Linked DNA regions of Homo sapiens. The protein of the gene in region 1 interacts with the protein of each later gene in a biochemical or structural test. Each region holds a gene or a part of one and is shown on either strand. Other genes may lie near its edges.

Region 1 (3,500 bases):
TTGTCTTTCTTTCATCTTGTCTCCTGGGGCTCATTTAGAGAGTTTGAGGTAATACGGGATACCATATTTGGCTCTCTGTCTCCCATTAAATTCATTGTGTCAAGAGACGGGAAATTTCTAACCTGAGTCCTCTATATGATTATACACAAAAAGGACACCTAGTTTCTGGGCATGGACCCCAATATCGATTATTAAAAACTCATTTCTTACAGAACAGGATTTTCAAACTCTTTATTCAAACTTTACATGACTTTCCTCAAATTGGTCCAGTCTATTATGTAGCAAAGGGGATGAGGAGGTAGAGCATGACCCATGAGTGCCCTTCTACATGTCCCACTTGATTCAGTCATGACTTGTTTCATCTCTCCCAGCAGCGATAGTACTAATGAGTACATGGACATGAAACCTGGAGTTTCTTATGTTGTCCCAACCAAGGCCGACAAAAGGAGATCTGTGAGAATAGGTGAGTACCTACCTATCAAGCAACCAAGAGTAACTTTACAGAGAGTATGTATATCATGCTAATGTGGAATATAACATCATTCCCAGTAGCAATGATGCAGACCAGTTCTGCTTTATGGTAGCAGTGCCAATGGTCAATGGCAGTTAGGGTTGCAAGTGGGTGTTTGGGGTCAGAGCATATGTTTTTGTGCCTGAGTATCTTTCTATAGATATGGGATCTTTGCTTTAATTCGCCATCCCTCTCCTCTATGGATTTTGTAACCCAGCCTAGGATTGTTAAATATTAACTTTGTGATTCAGCATCTACCTTTCCTGGACACCAGGGAAGTGATCTGCCTGCAAGTTCACATTAGTTCATTCATTACCAGCCTTTGGTATGTCATTGCCACTGTCTTTTCCTTTCCTGACCTTTATGGTTGTAATTGCTAAGAAAAATCCTCTCTTCCTCACAGGCTCATACATAGAAAGAGATGTGACTCCCGCCATCATGGAGGATGACGAGTTGGCCCTAGACTTAGAAGACTTGCTGAGCTTTTCTTACCAGGTGGCAAAGGGCATGGCTTTCCTCGCCTCCAAGAATGTAAGTGGGAGTGATTCTCTAAAGAGTTTTGTGTTTTGTTTTTTTGATTTTTTTTTTTTTTTTTTTTTTTTTGAGAACAGAGCATTTTAGAGCCATAGTTAAAATGCAGAATGTCATTTTGAAGTGTGGTAACCAAAAGCAGAGGAAATTTAGTTTCTTCATGTTCCAACTGCTGTCTCTTTGGAATTCCTGTTCTAATTTATAAGCTGTAAAGTACAAGCCTGTCTAAATGAGTTTTTCTATGAATATTCTTTTATATGCAGTGAAATTCTTTTAAAACTTTTGGCTTTTAGGATATAGGATATGTTCCTAGAGAACAGAATCATTTTATCAGTAAAAGCAGAGGGCACCTCATAGTTACAAGGCTTGGGGTGAAGCATAGACTTGAGTTTTATTGAAGTTAGATCCAAATATTATATGTGTGGCTTATGAAGTGTCAGGAAATAAGGGGTCAGAGGGAGTAATAAACACTTGGGAGAAGGTTAGGAATGGAAAGAATGATGGAACCAAAACAAGGAGCATGGTCTGTGGAAGGGTGAAAGGAGTTCCTTAGGAAGTAAGATTAACCGAACAGAATGAGTTACCAGTCCTACCCTTAAATGTCATGGGTGACATTTCCCAACAATTACCAAACTAAGAAAGGATATAAGATGGCTGAAATAAAGACCTTCTTCCGTGTGTCCTTGGGAGATGTCAGATTGAATTTGCAAAGGCATATTAGGAACTCTGTGAAAGGACATTCAAAGAGATGCATGCAAAATGAATTTTCAGTTTAAACAATATGATATGACTATTTCTTATGTATTTCCCTATGAATGAAAGCAGTCCTGAGAAGAAAACAGCATTTATTAGAATTGCTTTTAAAAGAGATTATAATAATTAGACTCTTGATTATGTGAACATCATTCAAGGCGTACTTTTGATTTTTATTTTTGGTGTACTGAATACTTTAAAACAAAAGTATTGGATTTTTTATAATATAAGCAACACTATAGTATTAAAAAGTTAGTTTTCACTCTTTACAAGTTAAAATGAATTTAAATGGTTTTCTTTTCTCCTCCAACCTAATAGTGTATTCACAGAGACTTGGCAGCCAGAAATATCCTCCTTACTCATGGTCGGATCACAAAGATTTGTGATTTTGGTCTAGCCAGAGACATCAAGAATGATTCTAATTATGTGGTTAAAGGAAACGTGAGTACCCATTCTCTGCTTGACAGTCCTGCAAAGGATTTTTAGTTTCAACTTTCGATAAAAATTGTTTCCTGTGATTTTCATAATGTAAATCCTGTCTAGGGATATCACACATTTTAGCAGTCAAATTAAGTATACTTCAGCAAAATTTGCATGGTATGCTGAACATTACTACAACTAACATTCAATAATAGAAGTCCTAATTCTAATTGTGTAATTTTGGGGCATGTGAAGGAAACAGAAATAGCCTTAATTTTCATTATAGCCTGAGAATAGCAATGAACTTGATTTTGCTCAAGTGTAACAAATGTAGGTCATTGAAGGTCACAGCAGGAGAAATTTTGGGGGGATTGGCATGCCGTGTGAAAAATATTAAAATCTAAGATCATATTCAGAGTTAGCCATATAGAATGTTGGATCCTAGAATACACGGAGAGCTATTAAATAGGTTCATAAGTAATAATGGGTTTGTAGAACATAGCAAATGTTTTTCAAAGTGCTGTATTTCCTTGCCAATTTTTATTGAATCCTCAGAACAAACCCTTGTCCTATAATTGCAGCACCTTCCTATTTTAAAAGTTGGAGAAACTAAGGCATGGCATATTTTAGTGCTTTTTATCTGAGGTGACACAGGACAATAGAGGCTGAAACTAGAGCCTGTGATTTCCAGAGTGGCATCCCATCGCCATGGAAAACCATATTGCCCTTTATAATATTCTCTGCCTGTCTTCCTGGGCCCATTTCTGCAGTCCAGATTTATTCCTGGAGGTGGATTTTTGTGCCCCTTATGATAATGTAATGTTTTCCCCCCATCACTGTGGCGTCTCTATTGGTAGCCTGTACTCGATTTGGTTTTGTAAGAGTGTTTCTGTGTTTATCTCCTGGCCAAAGCATGAATTTCTGAAAAGGCTGCCCTGAAGCTAGATATTATCATCAGGAGTGATAATAAAAACAACTTCTCTTCATCCTGGTGCAATTTTGGAAGGAAGAATGATAAGTCGTTAATTATCCAGTCCTCTGAATATTGACCAAAGGGAGGAGGAAGAAGGTGGCCGCCTCCAGGCCCAGTCTTGATGAATTCTGCAATCTGTCTCCATTATTTCATGCCTGTGTAATTTTGTCAAGAGTTGTCCAATACCTCTGAATCTTTGTTTTTCTCCCCTTGGGAATAATAGTGATTCCTGACTCAGAAAGTTATGAGTTAATATATGTAAAGTGCTTATGACAGTGCCAGACATATTGTTACTATTCTTTATAGATGTCT
Region 2 (3,500 bases), on another chromosome or scaffold:
TCAATATTCACAATGTTGTGTAACTATCACCACTACCTGTACCCAAAACACTGTCATTATCCCCAGCATAAACTGTAGCCATTAAACAATAATGCCCACTCCCTCCTCTGAACAGCCCCTGGTAACCTCTATTCTAATTTCTGTAGAATATTAAGTTGCCTAATCTAGGTACTCATGTAAGTGGAATCATCCAGTATTTGTCCTTCTGTGTCTGGCTTCACTTAGCATAATGTCCTCAAGATCCATCCATGTTGTACCATAAATCAGAATTTCTTTCTTTCTTATGGCTGAATAGTATTTTGTTGTATGGATGAACCACATTTTATCTATCCATTCATTTGTTGATGGGATCTTGGGTCCACCTTTGGCTACTGTGAACAATGCTACTACTATGAACACTGATGTACAAATAACTGTCCAGGGGCCTGTTTTCAATTCTTTTGGAGATATACATAGGACTGGAATTACTGGATCATATGGTATTCGTTTCCTTTTTTTGAAATTGCTTTTAATGCTGTTAAGCTGACTTTTTCCAATAACAATAAAGGTTATTTGATAATAGAAAGGTAACCCCCCTAAGAGTTTAGATCTTATAGCAAGCCTTCTTGACTTTCATTCAATGGGACCATTGAATGAAACGGGTCCTTTGAGACAATGCAATTCCAGGCAGGTGTTAAAATTACCCTGTAGAAATACTGATATTAAGAGGAAAGAATATTCACAATAAACTATAGTAAAAGAGATGCCCTCTCCTCACTAATACTAAACTTTACTGCTGTACCACATCAAAGTGTCAATCTACATGGTGGTTAAGCACTTGGTCTTAGACAGCAGACACAGGTCAGTTTGCCACCTTGTCACTCTGGGCCAGTTACTTAAGTTTGCAGAGCCCCCATTTCTTACTCTGTAAGACAGAAATGATAATAATACCTGCTCCATGAAGTTGTGTTAAAAATGTAAAATGCAGTATGAGAGCACTCAGCACTTCGCAGACCCCCAGCATATTATATTATTGTTACAGTAAGTTCTGGGCAATAGCAAGTAGCACAACATCATGCATCTCCCTCAGTGGTGATCCTCTTACCATTATCCACATCCTTAAAAGACAGAAGAAACATGTTGACGTTAAGACGTCATGTCAACAGTCTGAAATGCAGATTTGCAAAGGGAATACTGCATTTCATCTGAGGGATGCATTTTAGTAGATCCCTTATTTCAGAAGCAGATCCTCTGAGTGACTATCGGTGCTTAACCCAACCAGCACAGTTGAAGAAGCTTCTTCAAGGAGAATCTCAAAAGCGTAACTCATTTCATGTGTGTTTCAAGGAATCTGTCCCATTTCTTTTATATATATATATATGTTTTTATTATACTTTAAGTTCTAGGGTACATGTGCACAACGTGCAGGTTTGTTACATATGTATACATGTGCCATGTTGGTGTGCTGCACCCATTAACTCATCATTTACATTAGGTATATCTTTATTCTACCCTCTGTATAAAAGATTTCAACTATCTTGAATCTTAGATCAAGGAAGACTGTATGTTTTTCAACCTTTCCAAAAAACAATTATTTCAAAATTTTAAAACAACAATAATGAACATTACTCTCTAGGATTTCCCAGAAGTTTCTCCTGTAGGCCTAGAAATAATTTAATAATTTAAACTGTTTCTATAAAAAAAAATTTTTTTTTGAGACAGGGTCTCCCAGGCTGGTGCTAGTCTGCAACTGTTGGGCCAAGCAATCCTCCTGCCGCAGCCTCTCAAGTAGCTGGGACGATGGGTGCAGGCCACCGTAGCTGACTATAAAATGATTTTATCAATTTCAATTAGCCTTCTAGAACTAACAAAGTATCTCATCACAGTGTTGTTTAGGAAAGACTGTGAACAGTCCACCTGCCCAACACAGCACAGTAGTTAATTTCTAACACATCTTGACCAGAGGTTCTTAAACTTTTTGCTCTCAGGACTTCTTTACCATCTTAAAAGTTATTAAGGCTCTCAGAGAATTTGTATTTACATAGGTTATATTTATTAATATTTACTATATCAGGGATTTAAAATGAAGAAATTTTTAAAATGTAAGAATCCACAGCATATATTCCATTAGACCTGAGAGACAATGTCATCCCATATCGGATCAAAGTTGGAAAACTCCAAAAGAGAATGAGAATGAAAAAGCCAAATAACATTTTAGTATTGTTATGATAATACTACCTTGGAGACCCCTTGAAAGAACCTAGGGATCCCTAGAGAGCCCTGGACCACAATTTGAAAACCACTGATCTAGCCCAGAGGTCAGCAAACATTCTCTGTAATGGCCAGAAAATAAATATCTCAGGCTTCACAAGCCACACGTTCTCTGCTGCCACTACTCAATTCTAGCACCAAAGTAGCCATAGACAGTACATAAGCAAATGAACATGGCTGTGATCCAATAAAACTTTATTTACAAAAACAGACAATGAGCCAAATTTGGCATAGGGGCCATTCTTATCTGCCAACTCTGTTTCAGATGATGGAATTCCAGGCAGGTGTTCAAATCATCCTGTAGAAATATTTTATTAAGAGGAAAGAATATTCATAATTAATTGGCAAGTTGGGGAAAAGGCAGATTACAAAACCACATGTACAGATGGCCTCAATGTTTGTGAAAGAAATAAATATATATTTGTGGGCTGGGTGCAGTGGCGCACACCTGTAATCCAAGCACTTTGGGAGGCTGAGGTGGGCAGATCATTTGAGATCAGGAGATCAAGACCAGCCTGGCCAATATGGCGAAACCCTGTCTCTACTAAAACTATAAAAATTAGCCAGGCATGGTGGTGCACACCTGTAATTCCAATTACTCAGGAGGCTGAGGCACAAGAATCGCTTCACTTGAACCCAGGAGATGGAGGTTGCAGTGAGCCAAGATCATGCCACTGCACTCCAGCCTGGGTGACAGGGTAAGACTGTCTCAAAAAAAAAAAAAAAAAAAAAAAAAAATATATATATATATATATATGTGTGTGTGTGTGTGTGTGTATTAAATATTAAATATATATGTATTAAATATATGTATACTCACACATATATTTGTGTATCTATATGTATATGTTTAAAAATTGTAAAATGTCATACATCAAAAGTGATTATCTCTGCTTGATGGTTTCCATGTAAGTTTTTTCTACTTACTTGTCTGTATTTCATATAATAAATAAGCATTAGTGTTATGAAAATTTTTAAAGTTTTTTCTTAGATAATTAAAAGAAAAACAATATTTGGAAACATTATGTTTATTAATTATACTGATTTCCTTTAAGAAACATGATGGTTTAACAGAAAAGCCTATTTGCTTACCAGTTCTATTGCAAACTGTCCGAGATGCCCCTTCAGTCCCATTTGGTCCTTTTGGAACTATTTCAAAGCAATACTTGGTTCCAGGGAACAAGCCACCAATGATAATACTTTGGTTGGTGGTTATTTCTACCCGAGAATTGCCAGCTCCCTCCTGTGTG
Region 3 (3,500 bases), on another chromosome or scaffold:
TGATTCAACCGTTGTCTAACCAGTGCCGTGCCTATATTATGAACTCTTTTTCTTTTCTTTTCTTTTTTTTTTTTTATATTATAGCCTCTTTTAGCTCTTTAAGTCTTCTATGGGTTTAATGGGAGGCTTTAGTGGTGTATAGAGGGTGTGTGTGTGTGTGTGTGTGTGTGTGTGTGTGTGTGAAATGGATTTATTTTATTCTACAAATGAAATGAATAAAATCACCTGAAATGGAACGGAATGGCTACAGCGAGTGTCCAAAGACCACAAAACTGTTTCCTGACATGTGCTTAGCATATTTAAATTGTTCTCACAGTATCATCCTGAGAGCAGAGAGAGCAGTCCAACTGCTCCACAGGACTGCAGAGAGGGAACCAATCCATCTATTTTCTCAATAATGGTGATGACAGAGATGGAATGCTGATTGCCAAATCCCAAACACATACGGGCCTCTCACCCAAAGGCCATGATGCCTTTGTCTTAATAACAGAATAAACCCAATCCTGTACAAACAGCTTCTTCAGGGTGCATGTTTTGAATGGGGCAAAGATTAGCTTTTTGTGGGAGGCTTTCCAGGATACCGGACAAAAGCATGCACTAGAGACTCACTAGGTAGATTCAAATATTCTTTCTACCATTTACTAACTGCTTGATCTTAGTCAAGTTACATAAAAGGGGCTGTGTGGGGAGGAGGGGCTCTGTTCCCACATCTGTCAAAGTAGGAATAACAATAACACCTAACTCAGAAGGTGGCTGTGAGGACTGAATGAGTTACTACCTGTGAAGTACATGGTATACTGTAGGTGCTTAATGTCACCTATTAATGGTGGTGGTGATGATGATGTAATTTGCTCAGGAACAACAAAGGAGGTATAAAAAATCCCCCCATTTTACAGTTCCTGTGATGTAACATATTTTCTGAATAGGGCTTTATATTTATTCCATTTTTGTGCCAGGCCTATAGCAGTGTTGGGAGCGAAACTCTAGCAGGATCCTTCTTACATGCAGAAAAGGTTCATTTTACACTTGCCAATAGGAATGAAACTATTTCGCTGCCACAATAGCTAACTGTTTTTCTAAATGGCCTATTTCGTCAACAACAATCAGGAAAGTGTAGGAAGGTACAATCTCTAATGATTGTAGCCCGTGCTTAAGGTGAGGAAAAAAGTCAAAAAATTACACATGAGAAACCTGAATCCAGGCAGATCTTACTGAGGCCTTATCATCGCATTCCCCAAATGTCTGAAGAGTGACGCCCTCTCATTCTCGCTCACCTTTCCCCTCCCTGCCTTCCTCTCTTTGTTGAGCACCTACTTTTTGCCAGGCACCGGGTATACAGTAAGGAAGAAAGGCCAGTAATAACTCAGGATATTTTTTGGAAGCATTAAATAAATTTTTAAAAATGAGCTGGAATAGCTCCATGTGGAAAAGAGCTTAAAATTAAACAGCATCAGCAAAAATCCAGCCAAGCAAGCACAATCTTTAAGAGGAAGGATTTTAGGCTGAAAGGCAAACAATACTAGTTGATATACTAAAAAAGCACCCTCCAAAAGGAAGATGTTCCCTTTTGTGGACAATCATATTCCCATTTCTATCACGAATCTCATTAACTATTTCACTCCTTGAACCTTTTACTCTTGGCAAGCCCTTCACAGCCCCAGGAGCTACTTGTACAAATTAGCTCTCAAATATAAGGCAGATGAAGTAATCTCATTGCTGCTAAAGTATAATTCTCTCTAATTACTGTAACTACCAAGCGTTAGTCCCTCCCTTTCTAAAAATAACACTCCCTCCCCTAGACACAGTGATGAAATCGCATTCCGAAGAAAAACATTTGCTTATCAAAGAAATCTTAGTTCCTTAATATATGAAATTTCTACATGGACAACTTTAAAGGGGAGAGGAGGAAACCTGAATATTAGAAATGTCACTTGTTTTTTGGAAGGTGCTGAATGCGAGGAATAAAAATCCCACTGATGATGTAGGTGGTTTAAATCCAGCAGCTCCAACTTGTCATGGCTCATCTGAGCACTGCACTCTCCTTGGCTCCGCCAGGGCTCCCTCCCGCAGACAGGCCCGGGATCTGCCATGGTGCGCTCCCTGCCTCTGAGCACACACACTTATTGAGAGCTACACACAGGCCAGCCGTGGTACTCACCATACTGTCGAATTCTACAGAGCCCACTATCCGAGACACCTCGTCAAACTCCTCAGGAGACATGGGGAGCAGGTTGTCTGTGGTCTGAAGTCTAGAAGGGTGACTAAAATGGGGAAAAAGAAAAGAGCAATGTCAACATCTGAGTGATGAAAGCACTAGTGCATACTTACACACTTTATCTTTTGTCTGTAATTGAATTATCACGTTATATTTTTATTTTGGGTAAGTGCATACACTTGTAAAATACATTTGCAAAAGTACAGCTCATGGGAGGCTCATGTCCCCAGCCCAGCCCCTTGGGAAATGTTTCACACTCCAGGGATGTGATAAGCAATAGCCAGACTGGAATCTGTGCCGCTTCTGCCTGGGTAAGCCTAGGTGTGAGCATGTGCGGTGCACTACCCTGAGATGACAATGCCTCGTGGCTTACCCTGGACAGAAAAGCACCAGAGAAATGTCTGGGGAGTCCCTCATCCCTACCTTGAGGTTTGAATGCAGATAAAGCTGCTCCACACAGTGTTTTTACATGAAGGCTACATCCATTCACCCCAAGACAGTGCTGCAGGCCAAATAACTGACAATGACATTTCCAAAATTTTTTCTACCTTTTATAAAATGAAACAACAAAATCAAAGCAAGTGGAGACAGTGTATCTCAATCATTACTTTGGCCTTTTCTAGATTGAAAAGAACTACTTTCCCACTCTGATCAACTTTTGCTCATTTTATTTATACTTTTTCAAAGGGTATCAGTTTTGGGAAAATTTATATACCTTAAATACAAATTTGGTTTTTGGCTTTTTTTTTTTTTTTAAAGTAGTAAAATGCTGATAGGCAGTAACACGGGGATCTCAACAAGTTCAGCTGTGATGGCGATAGCAATTACAATGGAAAAGTAAAATACAAGCATCTTCAACAGGCCCCAGCCAGGAGCAAGGCTGGCTTGAGGTTTGTAAACATGTCACTCTTCTGTGTTCACTTACACTTCAGACACAGAAATCAACTCAGTCTTGATATATCCAGTTCCTTTAGGGCCATCAAGTTCCATTGGCTCTGGTGCTAGAAATAAACACATTGTGTACGCTTTCCATCAACCGAAATTCCATCAGAATACAACATCAACTTTTCGGGGGGATTAAAGTTCTACTGTGTTTCTAGACAGCTTAGCCTCCTAAAACTTTAAGGAGCTATAACCTCCCTGCCTGAGTCACCTAAAATTCTAGTGGGAATGCAGAAACAACGAGAAGAAGGATCTGAATTCAGTCTGGAAATAAGCTAGTGTTCAGCAGGACACTAGCTAGGAGCTTTCTCTTTACACAACTTGAAATCTTACAAGAAGTCTG
Region 4 (3,500 bases), on another chromosome or scaffold:
AAGCAATTCTCCCACCTCAGCCTCCCAAGTAGCTGGGATTACAGGCACGTGCCACCATGCCTGGCTAATTTTTGTATTTTTAGTAGAGATGGGGTTTCACCATGTTGGTCTGGCTGGTCTCAAACTCCTGACCACAGGTGATCCACCTGCCTCGGCCTCCCAAAGTGCTGGGATTACAGGTGTGAGCCACCGTGCCCAGTCTATTTTTGTATTTTTTGTACAGATGGAGTTTCACTGTGTTGTCCAAGCTGATCTTGAACTCCTGGGCTCAAGTGATCCACCCAGCTCAGCCTCCCAAAGTGCTGGGATGACAGGCGTGAGCAACTGGCCAGGTTATTCTTATTCTGCCTGGTGGGAAGGTTGGCATTAAGGGAGTTAGAAGAGTCCGGCTGGAGCATCTGGAAGAGGGTGCAGCCTGAGGCTGCTGTCATCACAGGGTGCTTACCCTTCTCCACAAACTCCCGTGTCTGCTGATTGCTGAGGTTGGGATAGGGGGAGGCCCCCAGGCTGAAGGTCTCCCAGAGCAAGATGCCAAAGCTCCACACGTCGCTTTCGGAGGAGTAGCGGCCTGCAGAGGAGGCGAGGAGGTGAGGCAGCGTGAGTGCACCCTCCCTGGGGCCAGGGCGAGGCAGCCGGCAGGACCCAGGCCTGGCCTCTGGCCATGGAGTCCAGGGTAGACAGGGACTAGGTACCGTAGTTAAGGGCCTCAGGTGCGGTCCACTTCACGGGGACTTGTCTGAGGCCCCCTGAGGCTGCATAGACCCCATCGGCTTCCTCTCGGGACATCCCAAAGTCACTGATCTTCAGGACATTCTTCTCTGTCACCAGGCAGTTCCGAGCAGCCAGGTCCCTGGGTGAGACAGGGCAGGGGCTCATTTGGCCAACAGTCGCCTGCCCAGCCCTGGCTGAACACTCTAGGAAAGCCAAGGACAAAAGCTGCTCCCGGCCCTGGGCACCCCTGTCTACCACAGAGGCCAACTCCCCCTCTGGAGCTGATGCCTGATGGTCCAGCGGGGGGCCCTAGGGGTATAGGTACCTCTTGACTCTGGTCGGGGGTGTTGGCAGGGCCCGTGGCCACCGCCCACTCACCGGTGGATGCAGCACTTGCTCTCCAGGTACTCCATGCCAGCAGCTGCATCCCCCACCATCTGCAGCAGAGTCTTCACCCGCAGGCGGGCCCCCTCCGTGCGGAGGAAGGTCAGGAAGTCGCCCCCTGCAGGTGGGGAGGACCCCTGCTGAGCCTCCTGAGGTAAGGCTGCCACCTGACCAGGCTGCGCGCCCTACCTGGAGCTCAGCGCCCCGCGCTCACCCTGCACAAGCTCCATGACGATGTAGATGGGCTGCTTCTGGGTGCAGACACCAATGAGACGCACGATGTTGGGGTGGCTGTACTGCTTCAGGATCCTGGAGGGCACTGCTGCTCAGGATCTACGTGGCCAGGCCCGCCTCCCCAGGGCCCCCCAGGGATGATGGGAGAAGAGCTTGGCCTCCAAGGCCAGCAGACCCGGACGTGTGACCTGGGGCAGCCTCTACCCTTCGGCACTATAAGGGGGTACTACCCGCAATGGGGGGCCTCGAGGACTAAACACCACCACGGTGGTCAAGCACTTCACACTGTGCCATGCAGTGTAACCTCTGTGTATGCGGGACCCGTGGTGATCATTAGTTTATCACCCACCTCGCTTCCTGTAGAAACTTGGCCTTGAGGTCAGGTGGGAGCGTCTCTCGACAAGACTTCACCGCCACCAGGGTGTTGTCGGCTCGCAGGCGTCCGCTGAACACTTCGCCAAAGTTCCCCTGAAACGGTCTTGGGCTCCTACCACGGCCTTCCCAGTCCCGCAGTTCTCTTCTCCGCTTCCTACCCATTCTGCTTCCTACCCCTGGGTGAGGGGCCCCCGTGTTCGGACCCCTCACCCAGGCTCTCTGGGAGTTTGACCCTCGCTGGGGAACCTAGAGAGCACATGGGGCAGGCAGGGAAAGTTGCCTCCGATGTGCCACCCTTCCTGAGAGAAGTGACATGGAAATCCAAAAATCACTCTCCCTTGGGTTTGAAAAGCATTCTGATTTTTAGGACAGTGACTTCTTCCCTAAACAGGTATCTTATGGCTTACAGTAACAGGGTGTCTCCCTGCGTGCACACAAGAGCTCGATGGGGGCGGCCTGGGTGGGGGTGATGAGGTCAGGGTGCTGGCAGAGCTGTCTGCTGGGAGTTTTCAGGGTAGGTACTGTCCCGTTTCCTGGAGGATGGTGTGTGGTGGGGGCTGGGCAGGGAGTCGGGGTACAAGTGGGGAATCAGATGGGGCAGGGAGGTCTCTGGGTGGTAGGGCAGGGGGCCCAGGCGCGACTCAGGAGAAGTCGCCAGCGACAAGGAGGCCAGCAGAGGCGCACTCACCCGTCCAATCTGCTCACCCAACACCAGGTCCTCATGGTTCAGCACCCACTTGTCCTGGGGAAGAGAGGAGACAGGGGATCAGAAGTCTGAAGAAAAGGGGTGCTGGGCCCTTAGAAGGGCTGTGTCCTCCATTTTTTGGCGCCTCCATATGTGACCAGGGGTGGGACCACGTGGGGAGCACACTGAGATGACTACGGGGTCCAGGCAGGTGCCCTGACCAGGTAAGCACCAACCTGGTGTGTACAGCCCATGGCATAGGAGTGGCCCTGACATTCCAAACCTAGAGCAAGGCTGGCCCTGAGGGTCACTCACTCTGCATCTTGTATGTAGACGGAGGGCCTGGAAAGCCCTTTCTGCTCAGACGCTGGGTGGGCCTGACCCACACTCCCCAAGCCCTGCCACAGGTGGCATGGGCCAGGCTGGGTGCAGGCTCACCTTGGGCACAGCCCTGTGCAGGACAACACCACTCTTCTTGGTGAGGGGCTGCTGGGTGCTCAGTAGGTGGTCGATGAGCAAAGGAATGCTAGGAAAGCCTTCCCCTTCCAGTCGGTACAGGTTCTGCAGGGCAGGGGACCCGGGGTCAGCAGCCTCCATTCTGAGGGGGCGTGAGCCCTGGGAGGGGGAAAGGGAGAGCAGCAGGGGAGAAAGGGCCTGCCCAGGACCAGGGGCAGAGAGACCTCCAGAAAAGATGCCATCTGATGGCACATGACATCCTGCTGCCCCACCAGGGGAGGACTCACACTTAAGCCTCTATTTTGTTGCAGGGACAGGGTGGTCTCTGTGGCCCCTTCCAGCCAGCCCTGCTAGGGAGGCATCCAAGACCTGGCAGCTACCCCCTACCCTGAAAGGCCATTTCCCTTGGGGAAGGGAAGGGAGGGGAAGAGTGAGGCCTGGAAGGCTCGGGTCCCAGCCCCACTCACATCCAAGGACTGGATGATGAAGTGCCGGGGCAGACCATCCCACAGCACCGACAGCACGTACTCCTGCTTGCCCTGGCTCTCCCGCACCAGGAAGTCCCCAGAGTGCACCAGCAGCTCAGCCACCTCTGCCCTCGGGATGGCCCCGTGGTACCACAGCTGCTCATGCAGGGGCTTCTGCACCTCCGGAA
Region 5 (3,500 bases), on another chromosome or scaffold:
ACACCATTGCATTCCAGCCTGGGCAACAGGGGTGAGATGAGACTCTGTCTCAAAAAGAAAAAAAAAAATTAGCCGGGCATGGTGGCATGCGCCTGTAATCCCAGCTACTCAGGAGCCTGAGGCAGGAGAATCACTTCAACCCGGGAGACAGAGGTTGCAGTGCGCCGAGATCATGCCACTGCACTCCAGCCTGGGCAACAGAGCAAGACTGTCTTGGAAAAAAAGAAAATTAAGAATTGTACACCATAGAAAGGGTGACTGTATGGAATATGAATTATACCTCAATTTGAAAAAATAACCCAACGAGTGGGCTTTGGCCTTGTCATCCTCATTCCACCTGTGAAGATGCTGGGTTGACACAGGAAGGTTAGCATTTTGCAAATGCAGCCCAGCAGAGCCAGCAGACCACAGAGCCTTGCTCCTCAGGAGTGCACAGCATGGCACGAATTATTGAGGGAAGAGCAGAGCTCCTCTCACTCTATGTCTGGGGTGGGGAGAAATGCCTGGCTGTGAGGACCACATGTCATCATGACGCAAGGGTTCATGTGCAGGGAGATGGCACCAATTGATTGAGAGGTGCTGATGTGAGGCTGCGTGCAGCGGCTCACACTTGTAATGCCAGCACTTCGGGAGGCCAAGGTGGGAGAACCACCTGACTCCAGGAGTTGGGGGCCAGCCTGGGCAACATAGCAAAACCCTGTCTCTACATAAAAAAGATTAGCCAGGCTTGGTGACTTGCACCTGGAATACCAGCTACTCGGGAAACTGAGGCAGGAGGATCGCTTGATCAAGCAAGGCTGCAGTGAGCTGTGATTGTGCCACTGCACTCCAACCTGGGCAACAGCGAAAGACCGTGTCTCAAAAATAAAAAATAAAATAATAATAATTTTAAAAAAAGGCCAGGTGCGGTGGCTCACACCTGTAATCCCAGCACTTTGGGAGGCCGAGGCAGGTGGATCACGAGGTCAGGAGTTTGAGACCAGCCTAGCCAACATGGTGAAACCCCATCGCTACTAAAAATACAAAAATTAGCCAGGTATGGTGGTGGGTACCTGTAATCCCAGCTACTCAGGAGGCTGAGGCAGAAGAATTGCTTGAATCCTGGAGGTGGAGGTTGCAGTGAGCCAAGATCATGCTATGGCACTTTAGCCTGGGCGACAGAGCGAGACTCTGTCTCAAAAAAAAAAAAAGAAAGAAAGAAAGAAAGAAAGAAAGAAAGAAAGAAAGAAAGAAAGAAAGAAAGAAAGAAAGAAAGAAAGAAGGAAAGAAAGAAAGAAAAAGGCTGGGTGCAGTGGTTCATGCCTGTAATCTCAGCACTTTGGGAGGCTAAAGAGGCCAGATCACCTGAGGATAACACAAAAAAAAAATTAGCCCGGTGTGGTGGCAGGCACCTGTAATCCCAGCTGCTTGGAGGGCTGAAGTAGGAGAATTGCTTAATCCTGGGAGGCGGAGGTTGCAGTGAACCAAGATTGCACCACTGCACTCCAGCCTTGGCGACAGAGCAAGACTCTGTCAAAAAAAAAAAAAAAAAAAACCCAAGAAGTGCTGATTGTGTTCATGAATTTATGAATTTAACCTACCAGGTAGACAAACATGCAAAGCATCAAAGCTGGAGCCTAATCTCTGGACCCGAAAGGACTTTTCACGGGGGCTGAGCGTAGGCACAGAAAACCTGGAGACTCCATTTTAACATGCTTGCTCTGCGTCACTTCACATGGAAGATACAGTTAGTGAGTGAAATACATAGGCCTTCCAGGGCACATACCCCTTCCTGGTCTTGCATGCAGAGAGAAAACCCGGCACAGTCAGCCTTGGATAAAGCCCCTTGGCCGGCTTTCTGGTGTGAGCCAGATGTCAGTAGCTCTGGCTACGACCTGGGCCAGCATTTTTTCCCACTGACTGTCAATATCAGATATGAAAAATAGTGCCTTATTGCATTTGCACAAAAACAATTAACAGTGTCTATTTTACTGAAGCTTCGAAAGGGAGACTTAGCCACCCGCTCACACCACAGCTTTCCAACTCTGTTGGACTCTCTGAGATTAGGAGTTTCGCCCTCCCAAGTCCCTTCTCTGCGGCTCCATCACGAGAAGTTCCCTCTCCAGGCTCTGCCCCGCCCCACACAGGCCACCTTATGGTCTCTGTTTCTCGCTTCCAGGAAGATCATGCATGCAATCCTGGCCCTTTTATTTGTTAGTCCTGTAAACTAGGCCTGTTCCATAAACCGCTCTGCACCTCGGTTTCCCCATCTGTAAAGTGGAGATAATAAGACCTCCTTTGAAGGTCTTCGTGGACATCAAATGAGTCAATATAAGCCTAGAATGGTGCCTGGCACAGAGCTCTTTGGAAGTTGCCTGCTGTTATTAGGCGGAGCAGGTTGGTAACAACCTTCTGCTGGTGAAGCCAGGTCTGTCCGGTGCACTGTCTACACTGCCCCTGGGAAGGGGTAAGCAAGACCCTGCCATGGTGCCTGGGTGGCCTGTGGAAGGCCACATGTGGAGGGAAACCAAAACCACACTGTCAGCTGTGGCCAGACCAGGCACTGGGTTCTGAGCCAAAGGCAGCCACGTGCCTTCGCCTCCCCCATGAGGGAAGCCCCCTCTCTCTGGAGTGGTTGGCTGGGAACGCCGCCCTCCTGCGCAACTCCAGGCTGGATGGCAGACAGCTGAGCCGGCCACTCTAGGCCTGATCCCGGGCCCCAGCTGCTCCTGCAGAGAGGGCAGCCTATATACTGACATTGGGCCTTTGATCAGCTTTGCCTGTGCAGATTGCACAAGGGGATGCCGGCTCGGCCAACCCATGGACCCTTGCATTGACTGACCCCATTCCCAAGGCATCTCTTCTTTGCAGCATAAGGCCCTGCCAGGTGTGCTGGCCCCTGCGTGGCAGGAGAGGGCATGAGCCTGACAGCTCTTAATGTCTCCCACCCACGATGTACCCAACGTCCCCTGGAGGCACCCACAGACTCCCCCCGGAGCAGGGCCAACTCTGCCGGGGGATTTGAGTGGGGACCAGGTGGGGACAACATAGGCTCTACTTAGAAGAGCCCCTGGCTGAAAGACGGCAGAGTTGGACCCAAACCAGGCAGCCACCTGCTGGAGTCTTCCCACTGCAACTGTCTGTGCCCCGAGATGGAGCCCAGGCTCCCTGTCAAGCAGGGCTTTCCAAGCTGCTGAGGTGAGATCAAAGCTTTCCTGCCCAGTGGTAGGTGACGGGGCTGACCTCTCTCGAGGAAATGCAGGGTTTGCTGGGTGTGCGCAGAATGTGCACTCCTAAGTCACATGGGTGGCACTGAACTGTAGCCCTGTCTTTTGATGTCCAACCCCCGCTCAAGTCCATTTACATAGTCAAATCCTGTTCTCTTTCCTGAGCACAAAGGCCCCTCCCTGGTGAGGCTGCTCTCAGTTCCTGAGACTCCAGGCACACTTGCCCAAACCATCAGGTGGAGACTCCGGCCGTTGTCCCCTTGCCCACCAGAGGGGGCCTGGGAGGGAGTGCTG
Region 6 (3,500 bases), on another chromosome or scaffold:
CCCTCCCCACAGCATTCTGCTGCTGGCTGGGGCTGCATCCCACTAAAGACCATCACTCTAGGCACTGCCGCGTGGCAACCTGGGCCACTCTTCCTTCTTCCTTTTTTTTTTTTTTTTTTAAGAGTATTGTGGTCAATTTTTCTTTTCTTTTTTTCTTTTTTTGAGACAGGGCCTCACTATGTTGCCCAGGCTGGTCTCAAACTAGCCTCAAACGATAGTGAGATCATAGTGAGGATGAAGCGATCCTCCTGCCAGGAGTAGCTGGGACTACAGGTGCGTGCCACTGCACTCAGCTAAGATCATTTTTAAAATACAAGGTATGACAGTGAAGTCTGAGGAAATTCCTTTGAATAGATGGACAGGCAGAGAAAACGCTTCTAAATCTAGGAAAAGTTTACGAAGTCGGCTGGGGATTCACCAATTGCCAAACCATGAGGCTGCATCGCTGTTTCTGGTTATGTTTCCAAGGTAAGCATCTCTGTAGGGACACTGAGAGGTGACCAGGGGATCATTTCCCCCAGGGACAACTGCCCCACTGAGCCACCTTGACCAGACCCCCTCGAGGGAACAAGGTTGACACCTCCCAAAGACAGTTCTTTACCTTCTCTGGACAACTGACTGACCACGTTGGCCTGTATCTCAGAACCTTCTACAATTTAGATTTACACTGAACCACTGAGGATAGCAAACAGAACCCAGGATTCAGACAGACCCTCTAATGACTGTGGGCCTAAGGCTGAAGTCTTCAAACCTGCACTCACCACTCATGGATGCTACTCCCAGGAACTTTTCCTTAACATCTTTCCTGTTGGCATCTTGTTTCATGTAAAATAGAAGTAAAGTCTGAGATCAAGGGGGTAGTTTGAGTAAAAAAACTGCAGTATTTTAATTTTAGTTGGATAACCACAGAATGTGCTATGCAACCTATAATTTGCCATTAAAAGGAGAATATGGGGCTGAATCACATTTTCTTTAAATATTACATCCCTCGGTGCCCAAAAAGAGTGTTCATTTTAGAGTTAGACTGGGCAAAATAAACACTGGGTCACAAGTGATAGCTTTGGTTAGAAATGTCTTTAGAACAGGCCAGCATGCATGTTGTCAAATGGCAATGCATGGCCTCTTCCCAGGGTCATGTGGGGCCAGTCACAAGGAAGCTGAATTATTCCCAATTGTCCACACAGGCCTGGTGGCAGGAGGTGAGGGGGAAGGCACGATACTCACAGGAACTTTCCATTTGTCTTTGATCCTATCAGGACAATTTGCTCAGATTCTTCCCGAGAGATTTTTCCATGGAACCAAGGCATTTTTTCATGGGCTGTGGTAGCGATCAGCTTCTCCAGCTGAGGCTTCTGACTGATGATGGCCTGCTCCAGAGCCTGACCCTGCCACATGGAGAGCAAAGCAGAGTAAACCATACCGAGGAAAAATGAAAATGATGCAGAAGGCATTTCCAATCTATCTCGAGTCCTGGCATGGTAAAACAGGATCAAAACTTATTCACTCATTCATTCAGTAAATAAAACCAGAAAGACCTTTACACATTACTTAAGTACTTTCAAGTGTATAAATAAAAATAACATGGCCGGGCACGGTGGCTCACGCTTATAATCCCAGTATTTTGGGAGGCCAAGGAGGATGGTTCACTTGAGGTCAGGAGTTCGAGACCAGCCTGGCCAGCATGGTGAAACCCCATCTCTACTAAAAATACAAAAATTAGCCAGGTGTGGTGGCACATGCCTGTAATCCCAGCTACTTGGGAGGCTGAGGCAGTAGAATCGCTTGAACCTTGGAGCCAGAGGTTGCATTGAGCTGAGATCATGCCACTGCACTCCAGCCTGGGTGACAGAGCAAGACTCTGTCTCAAAAAAATAAAAAATAAAAAAATAAACACACATATCCTTTGCTGTGGCAATCCCAACCCTTTCAAAGTTTATCCTGCAGACGTTGCATACAAGTGTAGTATACGATAGGTCTAGAGCAATGTTGTTAGCAGCGTTTATTCATAAACAGCAAATGTGTCCATCAATAGGTACTAGTTAAATAAATTGTGGTGCATAGCAGGTGATACCAGATAGCCAAAGAACGGGTGATGCAACTATATGAGTGTTGACACAGAAAGTTCTGCAAGAGATATTAGGAAGCCATAAAATCAAGTGCCTATCAGTGTGTATGGTAGGACCTTGTCAGATAAACAGAAACCAATCAACACCTATCAATGCCTCTCTGAAAAGGCCCTCCTTGCACTGGGTAACAGTGGTTCCCTGCTGTGGAGAAACCCACACTGCTGGCACAAAGGGACCCACCCTCTCAGCTGTGGCTGTGAAAGAGGAAAGGCTCTTATCAGAGAGAGGCATTTTTTGGCCAAAATTGATGCTTAAGGAGATGGTTGTGTTATTTGGGCACACAGGGCACATAGGCACATGTGTTGCATGTAGCCAGGAAGTCTGTGTGGGGTCACAGGGCCCCCTGGGCCCAGGGAGCAGGACCAGCTGTGGCCCACCTGCAGGTTCCATGTCTGCTTCACATATTCCCTGATGAGGTTTTCCTTCAAATCCTCAAAGGGCCCAGTCTTGGGCTGCACCCCTTGGGGCCGGTTGAAGGGCTTCTTGAGGAGGCAGACCAGGCCATCAGACTCCTGGGAGTGGTAGTGGCAGAGGTCGGCGGGGCTGGCATGGGTCCTGCCACCGGCGATGGCGTAGGTGCCATTCAGCTCCCGCTCGATGGTGTAGTGGTGTGCCTTCCTCCCGTGGGCCACGGACAGGGCGAAGCCACCCAGGTAGTTGCGGCTCTGGCGCAGCAAATAAAGCCCATCACTCATGCCCCCCTGGACCAGGTAATCTTCTGCCTCCTCCCGGGTGATGTTGCCGAAAAAGAAGGGCAGGTGGTTGGCGCTGTCAGCCATGCCGCTGCTGGCCATGCTTCAGGGGCCGGAGGGCACACACCTGCGCAGGTGTCCACCTGGGCAAGACAGAGACAGAGAACTTTGGTGAGGACCCCACGTGGCAGGGAACGTTTGCTAAAACCACTCAAACCCTTTCAAAGTGGAGACAAACCCTCCCATCTCTGAACAAAGGCACTTCCCTCTTTGGCCCTCCCAACACACAGTTGTCTTTCTGTTCACATCATCATTACAGTTTTCAGCATGCCTTCTAACTAAGCTAAAATCAGAGCATTTGATGGAAGTGACCAAATTAAATAATTCTTTTTTGGGGGGAGTGGGGAAAGACAAAGAATTCTAAAAATAAACATACCGCAAAGAGAAGCAAACAGAAGGGCTATTGCAAAACAGGACTCTTGGGCTGACCCTCAGGGTCCCAGCAGCATACAGGAGGCAGAATCTACATGAGAACAAACCAACTGCTCCTCCTGAGTCCAGACAATGTTAGAGAAGCCTTGCTCCTCATCACAGTGATATTACCAAGGAGGACGCTACCACCACCTCACCCACCTGAGCTGCGAGACGCTGCCTCGAGCAGTCAGTCACACGCTGGTGCTGA
Region 7 (3,500 bases), on another chromosome or scaffold:
ATTATAGCAATACCTCAGTCAATGTTAACTCCTCCCTTCTCTTTATGGACTCTTAAGGATTATTTATATGAAGACCACAAAATCATATAGGCCACCTCCCTTACAACACCACACTTTGGGTTTGGTAAGCTGTGGGTTTGATCCCGGTTTTCACTGAAAACTGCATGCGTGTATGCACGTATGTCCACACACCTCTCCATGAATGTGTTCATCCGCAGGAAGAAGCCCACGTGCCAGGCGTCTGTGGGGGAGGGGATAGTAAAGTGGTCTTTCGCTCTAAGAAAGGTTATCTATTATTTGAATTTTTCTCGTTGGGGATGATTTCTATCATTATAAAATATTTTTTTTAAAGGAAGAATCTTATTGTAAAAAATGTGTCCAAAACCCAACAGATATTCCTCCTATTTTAAGTAACTTGCTAACAACAAAACTCTAGCAAGACAATAAGAGAATCATACCAGTCCCAGGAACTTGTAATATCACAGAACGGATCCTCAATAAAGGGTCTTCATAAGGCTAATGGAATGACTCCCACCTGAAAGATTCTTTAAACATCTTCTTGGTTGAGCTTTCTTGCAATAATTTATCAATCCGACAGCAGGACCTCTGGTTCCCCTGCCCTGGGCCCATCAGCGCCCCCTGCCAAGGGTCCCCTACCTTGCCATCAGAAGCAGTGTTGATCCTGTAATGGTACACCCTCCCTTCGTATCTCAGCGAGATGGACCTCTGGCCAGGACTGCTCTCACTCTCACGCACCAAGAAGCTGCCATTGATCCCGCTGCTCAGCAGATACTCAGCGGCATTGCGGGACACAGGCCCATGGTACCAGGAGTGTTTCTCCAGACTGTTGACTGGCGTGATGTAGTTGCTTGGGACCCAGCCTTGGCCATTTTTGGTTTGGGCTTCACACCATTCCCCATTGTGATTATAGCCTAAGACCCGGAGCTTTTCACCTGAGAAGAAAGGAACCAAATCAGACATATCAGCTTTGGAAACCAGCTTCGTTCTTTTTCATTGATTCTTGTGTAACTACTAAAAATCTCCAAATTCCTAAATACCAATTTCATTTTAACAAGTCCACATAAAGATATGCATTTATAAGTGTATGAGAATTCACGTTTACATTTGAAGCTTCCTGTTTGTACTGAACAGATAGGTAAGTGTATAGCCTCAGTTTTTATAAATCAATTATGTTTATTCAAGTGCTCTGTTCCTAATATAAGACATTTTAGGGAAATAATGCTTTTTCTTAGGGGAAAAATTGCGTTCAGTATTTTGTCCAGCTGTCCTTTTCAGTATAAAAAATAGGGCAAGTTCTGTTTTTGCCCAGGGCTATTGTACAAGAACTCCTCTAAGGAGAGTCGACTCCCTTAGAAACATGCAGTTGTTGTTTTGGATATCCCTGCAGTCCAGATTTCAAAGCTGCTCCTTTAACGAGCAAAGGGTGGTAGGTCAAACCGCAATTCCCAGATTTCTATCTCCTGCAACCACCACTAGCTGCCCACAACCCTTTTACCTTTAGTTATGCTTAGAGTGTTATCTCCACTGGCCACAAAATCATACAGTGCAACGAAAAGGTTGGGGTCATTTTCACTGGGTCCAGCGAGAAGGTTTTCCTTGGAGTTCCAACGAGCGGCTTCACTCAGACCCTGAGGCTCAAAGTCAGATGCTACTGGCCGCTGAAGGGCTTCTGGAAGAGAAAGGGGGGAACAGAAAAAAGAAAAAGGAAGAGAAAATTGGGAGAAAAAATTAGTTTTATTCTCAGAAGCAAAAATATTTGTGTTTCCAACATTACACATTCCTATTTCATTTCTTAACATCTGTACATACTATTATCATTAAGGTGGTTTTTAAAAAACTCTTCCTTTACTAAATCTTGTGGAAATTAAGTATTTTCACTCCAAGGTGGTAATTATTGTTCCCCAATAGTTTGAGCTTCTAAAATTCATGGATTCAATATGACTTTAGTCAAATTAAAACAGTCTATCCACATATGCATTTGCCTTTGCTTAAAATATGCAATGAAAATTTCTTGCTTTAGCCGGGCATGGTGGCTCACGCCCGTAATCCCAGCACTTTGGGAGGCCAAGGTGGGTGGATCACCTGAGTTCAGGAGTTTGAGACCAACTTGACCAACATGGTGAAACCCTGTCTCCATTAGACATACAAAAATTAGCCGGGCATGGTGACGCACACCTGTAGTCCCAGCTACTCAGGAGGCTGAGGCAGGAGAATCGCTTGAACCCAGGAGGTGGAGGTCTCAGTGAGCAGAGATTGCGCCACTGCACTCCAGCCTGGGTAACGAGAAACTCCGTGTCAAAAAAAAAAGCCGGGGGTGGATCATGAGGTCAGGAGTTCAAGACCAACCTGACCAACACAGTGAAATCCTGTCTTTACTACAAATACAAAAATCAGCCGGGCATGGTGGCAGGTGCCTGTAGTCCCAGCTACTTGGGAGGCTGAGGCAGGAGAATTGCTTGAACCTGGGAGGCGGAGGTTGCAGTGAGCCAAGATCGTGCCACTGTACTCCAGCCTGGGTGACAGAGTGAGACTCCATCTCAAAAAAAAAAAAAAAAAAAAAAAGAAAAGTCAAATCGTACAGAAGGGCTTAAAATGAAAGACAAATACTTTCTATCCCAGTCCTCTCCGCTCCCAGAGGCAGAGCTGTTTTTTTGGTGATCACCCCCACCTCTCTAAGTACCAGCTAGATCACTGGAGTCCTATTCTCCGTAACAGACGCACACCTTCACTGCCTGTTCTTCCAACTAGGACAGCGTCTCTGAGGACTTACTTCACAAGACAAGGCTATTAACACACCCCACCCGTCCTTCCAGCTTTCTTGCCCCCACGACCACCCTCAAATATGTTCTTCTGTAAATTTTTTTTTTTAACCTTGTGGCAATTATTATTACAGAATAGAAAAAACTGTTACTAAACTTCCATGTTTTGTCTGAAACAGATTCTAAAAGTTGGAAATCAATCAACAGCTCTTAAATTAGAAAATGTGTGAATATTATTCATTACAGGGTCAAATAGGTTATTTGTTCCTGAAGTTTCTTCTTGCCTTTTTTTTTTGAACAGGGCTCAAACGCTCCAGAATTTCTTTGTGATAAAGACAACGTGTAGACGAGTTCTTGCAAACCAGCAAATCAAATAACCTCAAGTAGATCTTACAGTTGAAGAACATTGTGGAGTGAAATCCAAAATACTCATTTAAGGAACTACAATTTAAAAATCACTAACTGGGCCAGGCACAGTAGCTCATGCCTGTAACCCTAGAACATTGGGAGGCTGAGGCAGGCAGATTGCCTGAGCCTGAGCTCAGGAGTTCAAAACCAACCTGGGCAACACGGTGAAACCCCGTCACTACTAAAATAGAAAAAACTAGCCGGGCATGGTGGCGGGCGCCTGTAGTTCCAGCTACTAGTCCCAGCTACTCAGGAGGCTGAGGTAGGAGAATCGCTTGAGTCTGGGAGGCGGAGGTTGCAGTGAGCTGAGAT

The links.
Region 2: of the proteins of KIT (region 1) and PTPRJ, one has a biochemical effect on the other in vitro, tested with the Homo sapiens proteins (one large-scale study listed by IntAct).
Region 3: the proteins of KIT (region 1) and STAT1 form a complex in vitro, tested with the Homo sapiens proteins (one study listed by BioGRID).
Region 4: the proteins of KIT (region 1) and FES form a complex in vitro, tested with the Homo sapiens proteins (one large-scale study listed by BioGRID and IntAct).
Region 5: the proteins of KIT (region 1) and INPP5D form a complex in vitro, tested with the Homo sapiens proteins (one study listed by BioGRID).
Region 6: the proteins of KIT (region 1) and SYK form a complex in vitro, tested with the Homo sapiens proteins (one large-scale study listed by BioGRID and IntAct).
Region 7: the proteins of KIT (region 1) and ABL1 form a complex in vitro, tested with the Homo sapiens proteins (one large-scale study listed by BioGRID and IntAct).

What each region holds. Positions count from the first base shown.
Region 1 is NC_000004.12:54,730,957-54,734,456, forward strand, and holds part of KIT (mast/stem cell growth factor receptor Kit isoform 1 precursor), read left to right. Parts: intron 1-371; coding exon 372-463; intron 464-914; coding exon 915-1,042; intron 1,043-2,113; coding exon 2,114-2,236; intron 2,237-3,500. UniProt on the Homo sapiens protein: Tyrosine-protein kinase that acts as a cell-surface receptor for the cytokine KITLG/SCF and plays an essential role in the regulation of cell survival and proliferation, hematopoiesis, stem cell maintenance, gametogenesis, mast cell development, migration and function, and in melanogenesis.
Region 2 is NC_000011.10:48,130,559-48,134,058, reverse strand, and holds part of PTPRJ (receptor-type tyrosine-protein phosphatase eta isoform 1 precursor), read right to left. Parts: coding exon 3,343-3,500; intron 2,549-3,342; coding exon of another isoform or gene 2,544-2,548; exon of another isoform or gene 1,339-2,543; intron 1-1,338. UniProt on the Homo sapiens protein: Tyrosine phosphatase which dephosphorylates or contributes to the dephosphorylation of CTNND1, FLT3, PDGFRB, MET, KDR, LYN, SRC, MAPK1, MAPK3, EGFR, TJP1, OCLN, PIK3R1 and PIK3R2. Plays a role in cell adhesion, migration, proliferation and differentiation.
Region 3 is NC_000002.12:190,972,672-190,976,171, forward strand, and holds part of STAT1 (signal transducer and activator of transcription 1-alpha/beta), read right to left. Parts: intron 3,241-3,500; coding exon of another isoform or gene 3,217-3,240; coding exon 3,141-3,216; coding exon of another isoform or gene 3,137-3,140; exon of another isoform or gene 2,867-3,136; intron 2,262-2,866; coding exon 2,159-2,261; intron 1-2,158. UniProt on the Homo sapiens protein: Signal transducer and transcription activator that mediates cellular responses to interferons (IFNs), cytokine KITLG/SCF and other cytokines and other growth factors.
Region 4 is NC_000015.10:90,891,004-90,894,503, reverse strand, and holds part of FES (tyrosine-protein kinase Fes/Fps), read right to left. Parts: coding exon 3,313-3,500; intron 2,951-3,312; coding exon 2,828-2,950; intron 2,447-2,827; coding exon 2,393-2,446; intron 1,798-2,392; coding exon 1,679-1,797; intron 1,405-1,678; coding exon 1,310-1,404; intron 1,214-1,309; coding exon 1,090-1,213; intron 851-1,089; coding exon 693-850; intron 569-692; coding exon 446-568; intron 1-445. UniProt on the Homo sapiens protein: Tyrosine-protein kinase that acts downstream of cell surface receptors and plays a role in the regulation of the actin cytoskeleton, microtubule assembly, cell attachment and cell spreading.
Region 5 is NC_000002.12:233,063,342-233,066,841, reverse strand, and holds part of INPP5D (phosphatidylinositol 3,4,5-trisphosphate 5-phosphatase 1), read right to left. Parts: intron 1-3,500. UniProt on the Homo sapiens protein: Phosphatidylinositol (PtdIns) phosphatase that specifically hydrolyzes the 5-phosphate of phosphatidylinositol-3,4,5-trisphosphate (PtdIns(3,4,5)P3) to produce PtdIns(3,4)P2, thereby negatively regulating the PI3K (phosphoinositide 3-kinase) pathways.
Region 6 is NC_000009.12:90,843,319-90,846,818, reverse strand, and holds part of SYK (tyrosine-protein kinase SYK), read right to left. Parts: intron 2,962-3,500; 5' UTR 2,921-2,961; coding exon 2,504-2,920; intron 1,386-2,503; coding exon 1,225-1,385; intron 1-1,224. UniProt on the Homo sapiens protein: Non-receptor tyrosine kinase which mediates signal transduction downstream of a variety of transmembrane receptors including classical immunoreceptors like the B-cell receptor (BCR).
Region 7 is NC_000009.12:130,852,254-130,855,753, reverse strand, and holds part of ABL1 (tyrosine-protein kinase ABL1), read right to left. Parts: intron 1,691-3,500; coding exon 1,517-1,690; intron 954-1,516; coding exon 658-953; intron 1-657. UniProt on the Homo sapiens protein: Non-receptor tyrosine-protein kinase that plays a role in many key processes linked to cell growth and survival such as cytoskeleton remodeling in response to extracellular stimuli, cell motility and adhesion, receptor endocytosis, autophagy, DNA damage response and apoptosis.